2 separate regions of the Homo sapiens genome follow, and region 2 is linked to region 1. Evidence: fine-mapped expression QTL. Tissue or cell type: whole blood. Region 1 holds a variant in brackets; the other region holds the start of a gene. All regions are shown on one strand. Distances are between the middles of the regions.

Evidence for each region. PIP is the estimated chance that this variant, and not a neighbour inherited with it, causes the effect.
Region 2: LIMD1 starts here. The variant in region 1 is fine-mapped to the expression of LIMD1 in whole blood (INTERVAL, PIP 0.94).

What each region holds. Positions count from the first base shown.
Region 1 is chr3:45,633,562-45,638,882 of GRCh38, reverse strand. LIMD1 (LIM domain containing 1) reads right to left here. Exons shown (of 8, transcript NM_014240.3): 2 at 2,632-2,733. Among named protein-coding and RNA genes, the nearest start is that of LIMD1, 41 kb to the right of the region's middle. The variant C/T (reference allele first, on the strand shown) is at 2,593.
Region 2 is chr3:45,592,019-45,596,663 of GRCh38, reverse strand. LIMD1 (LIM domain containing 1) reads right to left here and starts at 1,913. Exons shown (of 8, transcript NM_014240.3): 1 at 377-1,913. The coding sequence starts at 1,784. RefSeq lists an enhancer at 2,037-2,206 and silencers at 2,297-2,426, 2,437-2,906.

The DNA of each region.
Region 1 (5,321 bases):
ACCTCCACATCATTATCATCAAAGAAATGCAAATCAAAACCACAAAATGGCCATTATTAAAAAGTCAAAAAGTAGATGTTGGCAAGGCTATAGAGAAAAGGCAATGCTTATACACAGTTGGTGGGAGTGTAAATTAGTTCAGCCACTGTGGAAAACAGTTAGGAGATTTCTCAAAGAACTAAAAATAGAGCTACCATTTGACCCAGTAATCCCATTACTGGATATATATGCAAAGAAAAGTACATCTTCTACCAAAGATACCTGCACTCGTATGTTTATCACCACACTATTCACAATAGCAAAGACATGGAATCAACCTAGGTGCCCATCAGCAGTAACTGAATAAAGAAAATGTGGTACATATACACCATGGAATACTACACAGCCATAAAAAAGTGACATCATGTCCTTTGCAGCAACATAGAAACACAAGAAACAGAAAACCAAATAGCTGAAAAACTTTCTACTGGGTACTATGTTCACTGTGTGGGTGACAGGACCAATAGAAGCTCAAACTTCAGATTCACACAATATACCTTTGTAACAAACCTGCACGTCTTGAATCTAAAACTAAAATTAAAATTTAACTAACTAAATAAATAAATAAAGGGGGGCCTAAACACAACTCCCATATGGATAAAACACAAACATGTGCCAAAGACTTTATTTAACTCATCAATTAATAAAGGAACCAATTAATGGGTTTAATGGGGAGAATTCAAAGAACCATAGGCCATCAGGAATGTTGAAATCAATTTGCTAAATAGATTGCAAAACTGGTCAATCTCCACAGGGTAACAATCATCAACTGCACCTCACCAGACAGTCTGCATTGCTATAGACAAGAATGTGTTGTACCATCAATATTCTACAACTTACAGAGTGCAACATAGCTCAAAGACAAGGAAAGGCACAGAGACCCAGAGAATTCGATAACCAGACCACTCCTAGATTTCCACTGCGGACATTCTCATAGTCTTTCCCTACACAGGTGAACACTGATCAATGTGTAAACCATAAACTCTCAGGCATGTGTTCTAAGGCAAATTGCAGTGAGGACTGAAGCATGAGGTTCAGAACTCAGGCCTGGACCATCAAGGCTCAGCAGGTTAGGAGGCCACTGGTTAACCACAATGCACTGGTTAACTTTATACTGGGAATTAGGATCTCTGGCTGTGAGCAAGTTCTTCCCCTTCCCTTCTCCAGAAGGATTCAAAATGAGGATCCCCAAACCAATGGTAGTCAGCCCTGATCACACCCTGGAAGTATCTGAGAAGCTGTGAAAAAATACACTTGCCCCACTTGGGCGGGCGCAGTGGCTCACGCCTGTAATCCCAGCACTTTGGGAGGCCGAGGTGGGTGGATCACAAGGTCAAGAGATCGAGACAATCCTGGCCAACATGGTGAAACCCCGTCTCTACTAAAAATACAAAAATTAGCTGGGCGTGCTGGTGCACATCTGTAGTCCCAGCTACTCGGGAGGCTGTAGCAAAAGAATCGCTTGAACCCAGGAGGCGGAGGTTGCAGTGAGCTGAGATAGCACCACTGCACTCCAGCCTGGGTGACAAAGCGAGACTCCGTCTCAAAAAAAAAAAAAAAATTAATACACTTGCCTCACTCTAGAAATTCCAAGGGTGATGCCCTGGCCCCACCCTTGATTAGCAGAATCAGATTGAGGTTCCTAGCTAATCCTATCAGATTAGGATTTAGCTCTGATTCTGATTAGCAGGGTTTTAAAGTCTCCACAGGTGATTCTAATGAGCAGCCAGGATTGCAAACCACGGGGCCAGATGGTTAGAAAGACCCCTTTGTTCCTGACACCCTGTGACTCTGCTGTAACATTCCCTTTTAGTTGAGAGCTGTTAGCCTCAGTATAGGATTGAGAATATAAGTAGGACATTTTCCAAAAATACTCCTCAAAATTAATCTTTGATAGAGACAGAAAACAAGCAAAATCCATAACTTGGTCAGACTTGGCAAGCATGCAATGTGTTAGAATCTTCCACGGGGAGCGGTTGCCATCCATTCAATCCAGACTCCTGATGGGCTGCTTGAATTATAATGCATGTACTGGAGTACAAAGATGCCCACAGGTGTGTGCTAGGTAGGCACCAGCACATGGGTGGCATGCACACACACCTCATGCTCATACAGCAGCCTCCAAATCAAAGATTAGGTTAGGGAGGTGGTTACAGAGTAATAAAGGACCCCCACCTCCACCTCACACTGGGGTAGCTGACTGACTAATCACTTTTGGTTGGCTGGTCCCCACAGTGGGGGAGAGAACTGACAAACAGGGTAGACATGGTGAATCCCAGCACTTCCTCCCAAATCTTCTGAAACCTCTTCTTACATATTTCAAACCTGATGTGATTAGGGATCACTCTGAACTCATTCAACTTATCACCAGAATCACAGGCAATCTTTGGTATTGTGTTAAGTCACCGTGCCCTGATGGGCTTCTGTTGGTGGTAAGAAACCCTGCTGTAAAAGACACTGTCTGGCTTTTCTGTGGGGCTGAGGAGGGCCATGGACCAACCGTCTCCAGAAAGATGATCTCTCTCCTCCCTTTCTCGGTTCCCATGTTCCTTA[C/T]GCATCCCCCACACACCCGACACCCACACCCACACTTACTGCAAGCTGCACAGGTGAAGCATGTGTCATGGTAGAGGTTCCCCATGGCCTGACAGGCCTGGCCAGCCCCAAACACCCCTTTGCTGCATTTCACACAGGCTCCTTGCAGGACAAGAGAAACATCAGTGAGTCAGGAGGGAACCAGTGTAAACTGAGTCATAAAAAAGCCAATGAACAAAGCATAATACCATCCCTCCCCATGGCCAGCCCACCACCAAATCCAGTGGATGACTCATTTGAAGTGTCTTTCTCTCCCTCTCCCTCTGTCACTCTTTCAACTGCAGAAAACAGCTACCAGGCTGGACTTTAGGTCCCACTTTCCCTGCCCCACTGTTATGCTAATGTCCAGAATTCCTGGGCTTGGTCAACTCCCTCCCTCACCCCACCCAAAGCTTTCGAAGGTTCCCACTGTTTGTAAGACAGTTCAGAAAGATTGCACCATCACTATAATATGCCAAGCATGCAGGTTGGGAAATTTCTTTTTTCCTCCCTTTTTTTTTTTTTTTTTTTTTTTTTTTTGAGACGGGGATCTTGATATGTTGCCCAGACTGGTCTTGAACTCCTAGGCTCAAGCAATCCTCCCGCCTCGGCCTCCTAAAGTGCTAGGATTACAGGTGTGAGCCACCATGCCTGGCCAGACAATTCCAACTAAATTATTTCCTTTAATTTTCAGTGGGAACCACCAACTAGGATTTAGTAACCTCAATTTTTACAAAAAGTATATCACACCCCAAGCCCTGGGTTTGTCAGACTGCAAGCAAGTGCTCTTCCCTGCCCTTCTACCAGCAGCTCCTCACCCCCTAACAAGTCCCACAGGGTCTTAGCCCAGCCTTTGCTGATGGGCCCCTACCTAGTACATTCTACTCCTGCCCTTCTGTTCACTCAAGTCCTGAGGCTTTCATCTCAGCCTGCCCCACGATTCCTTCCTCAGACTGTTTGAGGCCAGGAGTTCAACACCAGCCTGGGCAACATAGGGAGATCATCCATCGAGAGAGAGAGAGAGAACTTTTTTTTGAGACAGAGTCTCACTCTGTCACCTGGGCTGGAGTGCAGTGGTGCAATCTCGGCTCACTGCAACCTCCGCCTCCCGGGTTCAAGTGATTCTCCTGCCTCAGCCTTCCAAGTAGCTGGGACTACAGGAATGCACAATCAAGCCCAGCTGATTTTTGTATTTTCAGTAGAGATGGGGTTTCACCATGTTGGCCAGGCTGGTCTCAAACTACTGACCTCAGGTGATCCGCCTGCCTCAGCCTCCCAAAGTGCCGGGATGACAGGCATGAGCCACCGCGCCTGGCCTGAAAAAACAAATTTGAAGAGCCAGGTTCTAACCTTGAGCCTCCCACCTACCCGTGACTCCTGTAGTTTGGATTAATGGTGATCAGCTCTCTGGGTGTCCGTTTCTTAATTAGGAAATAGAGGTTCCTTCCATCTGCCCTGCATATTCCCAGGAGCAGCAATTAAGAGTTGCTTTGAAAACCAAAAAGTTCTAAAGAGTTAACATGCCTCAACTACAAAGTGCTTATTGGGACACCTGGTCTAAAACAGCTCCACAATTTACTAGCTATGTGACAAGCGCAGACTAATTAAACTCCGATGTTGGGCTAGAAAATGGGGACAACAGTGGCCCCCTCGTAGGGTTACTGTTAAGAGAATATGTGCAAAGTACTTAGTGCAGGGCCCCATACTTGGGAAATGCTCAATTAACAGGCAAATTATAAGGATGACAATCATGTTACTGCCTCCTGCAAAAAGTGCCTTCAGCTTAAAAAGAGCTGTCTAAGAAGTTCTGGGCCTCTCGGGATCTCACATGGGCTCTGTGAACAGGCTGGAGGTCTCTCAGGCTAGGCCAGCCCAGAACCCCTACAGTAGCAGCCCAGGCTCCGGGCCCATCCACATCAAGGAGGCCTTGGAGTCTCCCTCCCAAAGAACTCCCCCATTACAGTCAAATGAAAGACAGCACAATTATGTAAACAATGCACAAGATGAAAAAAGATTCACGGAGGAATATATTAAAATATAAACAGTGGTTTCTTTATGTTGTAAAACTGTAGCTGGCCTTATTTCTTTACATTTTCTGTAGTTTTTTATAAGACAGCAGGCATTCATTACTTTACAGATTTTAAAAGGTCGTCTCAAAAAAGTGTTTGAATATGTTCAAATACATTATATAATGTTAAAATTTTTGAAAAATCAACTTCACAGATTTTATAAATATCAATTGCTCCCCTAGCACCCAGCAAGGTAGCCAGCTGGCATCCTTTGGTCAGGAGGAGCTCAGGCATCCTTTTCTAACTCTGGCTCCAATCTGCCAGGGCTATTCTCAGGCTGCAAATCCCCAGCCTTCTGCCCACAGGGTAGAAAGCCCTGTGTTTCAGAGTTCATATCATTTTAAGTTGATAAACTGCATCACCATCAAAGGAAGTCCAAGCTAACACATCCTTCATGAAATTCCCCCACACCAACAGGTTTAAGGAGAAAGCCCCTCTGCCAACACCAGGAAGCAGGGTGAAGCAGTCTGTAGGAAACAGACAAGACATTGACCATTGGAGAAATTCATTTATAGAAAGCTCAAGAGGGCACAAGTATTGGTTATCTGCAGTTCTTCTTCTGTTTCAACATTTTCAAACACGCAGAAAAGTTGAAGGAATTATACAGAGGGTACCCACATACTCACCATCCCAATTCTATAA
Region 2 (4,645 bases), 42 kb after region 1:
CCTGAGAAAGCTGGTCCCACTGAAGTCCTATATGAGCCTGTCACTGCAAGAGGCTCTAAAGTCACACCCAAAACCCTTGAAATCCAAAGTCACAGCATTTCTCTTTTCTGAGAGCAGTCATGAGCAATCCCACCCTGCTGCACCCTTCACACATGGGTAACCCCAGCTGCAAGGTCCGCTTTCTGCCCCAGGATGCTTTCAAGTTTCTGAATCAGAAAAAGCAGCTGAAAGAGGAAGCCCAAAACAAAAAAATAAAAAAACAGGCCACTCAAAGAGAGGTAACTACAGCCCACAGCATCCCTGGTAGGGGGCATGTTCCCCAATCTCAAGAACCCCATCGCCCCACCATAGGCAACTCCACCAGCCTCTCACTCACCAAAGTAATCAGCCTTCGGGTGAGCATCCATCTCTCGCTCCAGACGTTGGGTGAGGGCTTCTAATTTCAACTCAGCAGCAGAGGGTCTCAGCTCAGGACCTGGGACGAGGGGCTGGCAGGGCAGCCTTACCCTAGGGGAGCTGGGGCTGTCCAGGAGCACAGATCCCAGGCTACCATCAGAAGACCAGCCCAGGGGACCCTCTTTACAAGATAACTCAGGCAGGGTGGACATCACTGGATGGACAAGACTGGTGGGGCTGAGCTTGGGACCAGTGCCAAGGTCTGTGCAGCCAGGCTTCGGCCCCAGCCCAGGGACCGCACCCTGCTGTGAACCGTCCAGACCAGCTGGCGAGGATGACGGGGCAGAACTGGAAAGGTAAGATTTGGGCCCATCCTGGAACCAGGGTTGGGGGTCCACATTGGGTTTGGACATCACACCTGAAACCTCACCCCCCAGCCCCGAGTTTGATCTTGGAAGACCTCCTTGCCTGGGGCAGCTCAGGGCCAAGGGTGCTGACACAGAAGGGGTCCTGGGCTGAACAGGCCCCACAGCTGGTGCTCCGTTCTCCAAGTTTGGGGAAGGCAGGCCAGGGCTCACCCGCTGGGAGGAGGCAGTGGACCAAAGGCCTGTTGGCTTCTCGCTGCTGCGGCCACCAATGCCACTATTCTGACCACCGAGGCTACCCTCAGAAGACCTGCTGGAGCTCAGGGAGAGCTGTCGGTGATTTAGGGGATGGTCCCCGCAGGGTTTGGGCAGTGGTGGGTCACTCCCCGGGGAGCTAGGCCACCCACTCCCTACACTCAGGCCGATGCTGGGGGACACTCCTGGTTTGTCACCCCACTTTGGGCTTGCCAAGGAGAGGTTGTCATAATAGTCTCCATGAGTGAGGCAGGAAGGATCCTCACAGGGGCCTGGCTGGTGGAAAGCAGACATCTCAGAAGTCGCCAGGCTCTCCCTGGAACCACAGTCCTGGCTGCCATGCCTCGTGCCATGCAGGTATGGCCTGGATCTCTGCTCCTGCGGTGGGTACGGGGGCTGCCCAGCAGCGAGGGTGGTGACTGCCCCAGGTGCCCCTGTCGAGGCAGCAAGAGGAGGCTTGGCAGCACCATCCACAGTCAGCTTGCTGCCCACAACTTCCCAACGGGCCTGTGGGCCCAGGCGGCCCCCTCCATTGACAGGGCCTCTACTCCCCCTGGGCAGAGTCTCCTCCTGCAGGAGCTGCTGCTGCTGCTGCTGGAGGTGGATTTTGGCCATCTTGGTGGCGAACACCCTGCGAGTTTCCTCAAACTCGGGGTTGTTGCCTGCACCCTTGTCCACTCGGAAGAGCCCATCCTTAGAGGCCTCATACATGTTCAGGTCCTCGATGAATTTACTGGCCTCCAGGCCCAGGTCGTCATACTTATCCATGCTGCAGACAGGTGTCCGGGCCTAGCCCAGGTGCCGTGTGTGTGTGTGTGTGTGTGTGTGTGTGTGTGTGTGTGTGTGTGTGTGTGTGTGTGTGTGTGTGTTGAGGGCAGCGGGGAGATGCTGGCGAAGGGTCGGGGCTCAAGTCCGGCCCAGTACAAGTAAAGACTTCCACCTGCCTAGCGTGAAGGGCATGACCCCAGGATTTAAGAGTCCAGCCGAAGTTGAGACCTCAACGCCAGCTGGACCAAGTTTGCTTCCAACTCCCTTTCCCCTGGAGACGTCCTTGTTGGGGTAGCTGGTGGCACTTCGCCGTCCCGGGCCTGCTCAGCGGAGTTCTTTTCTCCTCTTCAAATTATAAAAGGAAAAAGAAAACAGCAAAAAAGTAAAATCACATCCTCCTTAGGCAACCAAACACGGAAACTCACAGCAAGGCAGCAGCCGACTGGGCCGGGTGAAGCTGAATCGGCCGGGAGGGCGCCGAGGCCGCGAGTCGGGCCGGAGCAAACGCGCGGCGGCTGAGGCGCAGGTACGTTCCAGGCGCTGGGTCCTCCGCTGCTTCCCCGGAGCTGCGATCCCGGCCGGCGCCTGGCAGGAACGCCGTCCGGGACGCACGGGCGGCCGAGCAGCGGCAGGAAGTTCACGGCAGCTGGGGCTGGCGGCCCATTGTCCGATGGCGGCGGCGGATCGGCGCGCGCGGGCCGGAGGGCGGCGGGACGCGGAAGTGAGTGCGCCAGGCGCAGTCCCTGCTGCTCGCTCGCCGGCTCTGCACGTCCCGAGCCCGCGCCGGGGCGGAGGGGGCGGCCGAGGGGCGGGGACGGCGCGCGGGCGGGCGCCCAGGGGCAGGCCTGCACCCGGCAGCGTGGCTGGGCCTCCTGCCCCCAGGCCTGGCTGGAGAACACCGAGGGGTGCCCCACAAGTCCGTCCCACGCTCTAGCACTGGGACTGCACGGGACTTCGCCGCCGCCACTGCCGCCCCCTGCGAGTCCTGGACCGAATTGGGTGCTCCGACCTCCCTTCCAGCCTCGGGTCCTCAGCCCGGCCCCGCCCCTGGCAGCGCTGGGCGGGGTCCTCCGCTCGGAGACGGGCGGCCTGGGTAGCCTGCATGGGCCCAACACAGGCGCTGGGAGTTTGCGAGGACTTTCGAGGACGCCGCTCCTCGCTCCACTGCCTCAGTTTCCCCGGTGGAAAGCCAGCCCTTTGTGCCTCTCGAGGCCGGCACCGTCCAGGCTGTGCCCGCCGCCCGGCTTGCCCGAGGTGCACTATTGGAGAGGCGCACGGGCGTGTCACCCATGGCTGGCCCACCGTCCTCTTTGACAGGTCGGGAGACTGAGGCAGAGAGGGGGAAATGCCCAACATGCCAACGTAACCAGCAAAGCGTAGATGGGAGCCCGGGCCCTCTGAAAGAGCGAAAAAGAAGAAAGTCTCGTTGTGCCTGCGCGCATTTCACGTCCTCAGTGCAGCAGTAAAAGCACGTGCCCTAGTAGGCTCGTTATTCGTAGAGGGACCCATCTGCAAGTGGATCCGCGCGGCTGCAGGGACACCAGGCCTGACTCCTTGGCGCCCCCGCATGGCCCGGGACTCCCTATACCAGTTCCCAGGCGATCCTGGAGAGGTTTCATTTCCCACACTACAGCCATCGTGATCCTAAGGCAAATACTAGAACAGACACTTCTCTACCTAAATCCTCAGTGCTTACCCCAGAATTAAATTGAAATCGGCCCCTTGCCGCAGCCTTCTGGGCCAGATCTAGGGATCTTCCCTCCCTCCCTGCACTCTAGCTGCAGGAGCTTCCTGGTGTCTGCCCAGAGCTTGCCCCTAAACTGAGTGGCTCATCTTTCCCATCCCTGCTGAAGTCACCTCCTCTTAGAGGCCTCCTCAGAGTGGTTCCTGTTGTTCTTTTTCAGCACCCTCTTTACTTCCTGCTCAGTTCTGATAACTATTTATAATTATTTATTTGTTGGTTAACATGCGTTTTTTTTTGTTTGGTTGGGTGGTAGGTTTCCCACTCCATTTGACCATATCTGTATGCCAAGTGCCTGGTATATATTAATAGTAGTACCTAATGGTCGAATAAGTGAATTAGTGAACCCCTATCTGCCAGAGTTGTGACAGAGAACAAATAAGATAATATATATGAATGTGCTTTATATTCTGTAAACCAGGGGTCCCCAACCCCTGGGCTACTGACCAGTACTGGTCTGTGGCCTGTTAGGAACTGAGTGGCACAGCAGGAGGTGAGAGGAGGCAAGCCAGCGAAACTTCATCTGTATTTACAGCCACTCCCCATTACTGGCATTACCGCCTGAGCTTCACATCCTGTCAGATCAGCAGTGGCATTAGATTCTCAGAGGGGTGCACAAACCTTATTATGAACTACCCTCATGAGGAATGTAGGTTGCACGCTCCTTATGAGAATCTAATGCCCGATGATCTGAGGTGGAACAGTTTCATCCCGTCTGTGAAAAAATTGGCTTCTGTGAAACTGGTGCCAAAAAGATTGAGGACCGCTGCCGTAAACCCAAAGTATGGTTAATGGACTCCATATCACCAGGGAGCTTGTTGAAAATGCAGAATCTTAGGCCCCATTGCCAACCTACTGAATCAGAATCTGCATTTTAACAAGATTTCTGGGCGGTTTATTTGCACAATAAAGTTACAGAAGCACTGCTATAAAGCACTATACTAAAATGAAGTATTTTTATTAAAAAATTTTTTTTGGTTTTTTATCTACAAGTAATACATGTTTCTATAACAACTTTGAACAATACAGACATATATAAAGTTTTAAAAGTTGCCTACCATCCCCTTTCTCAGAGGTAATCATAATTAAACACTCCTTAGGTGTTGGGTAATACTTATTA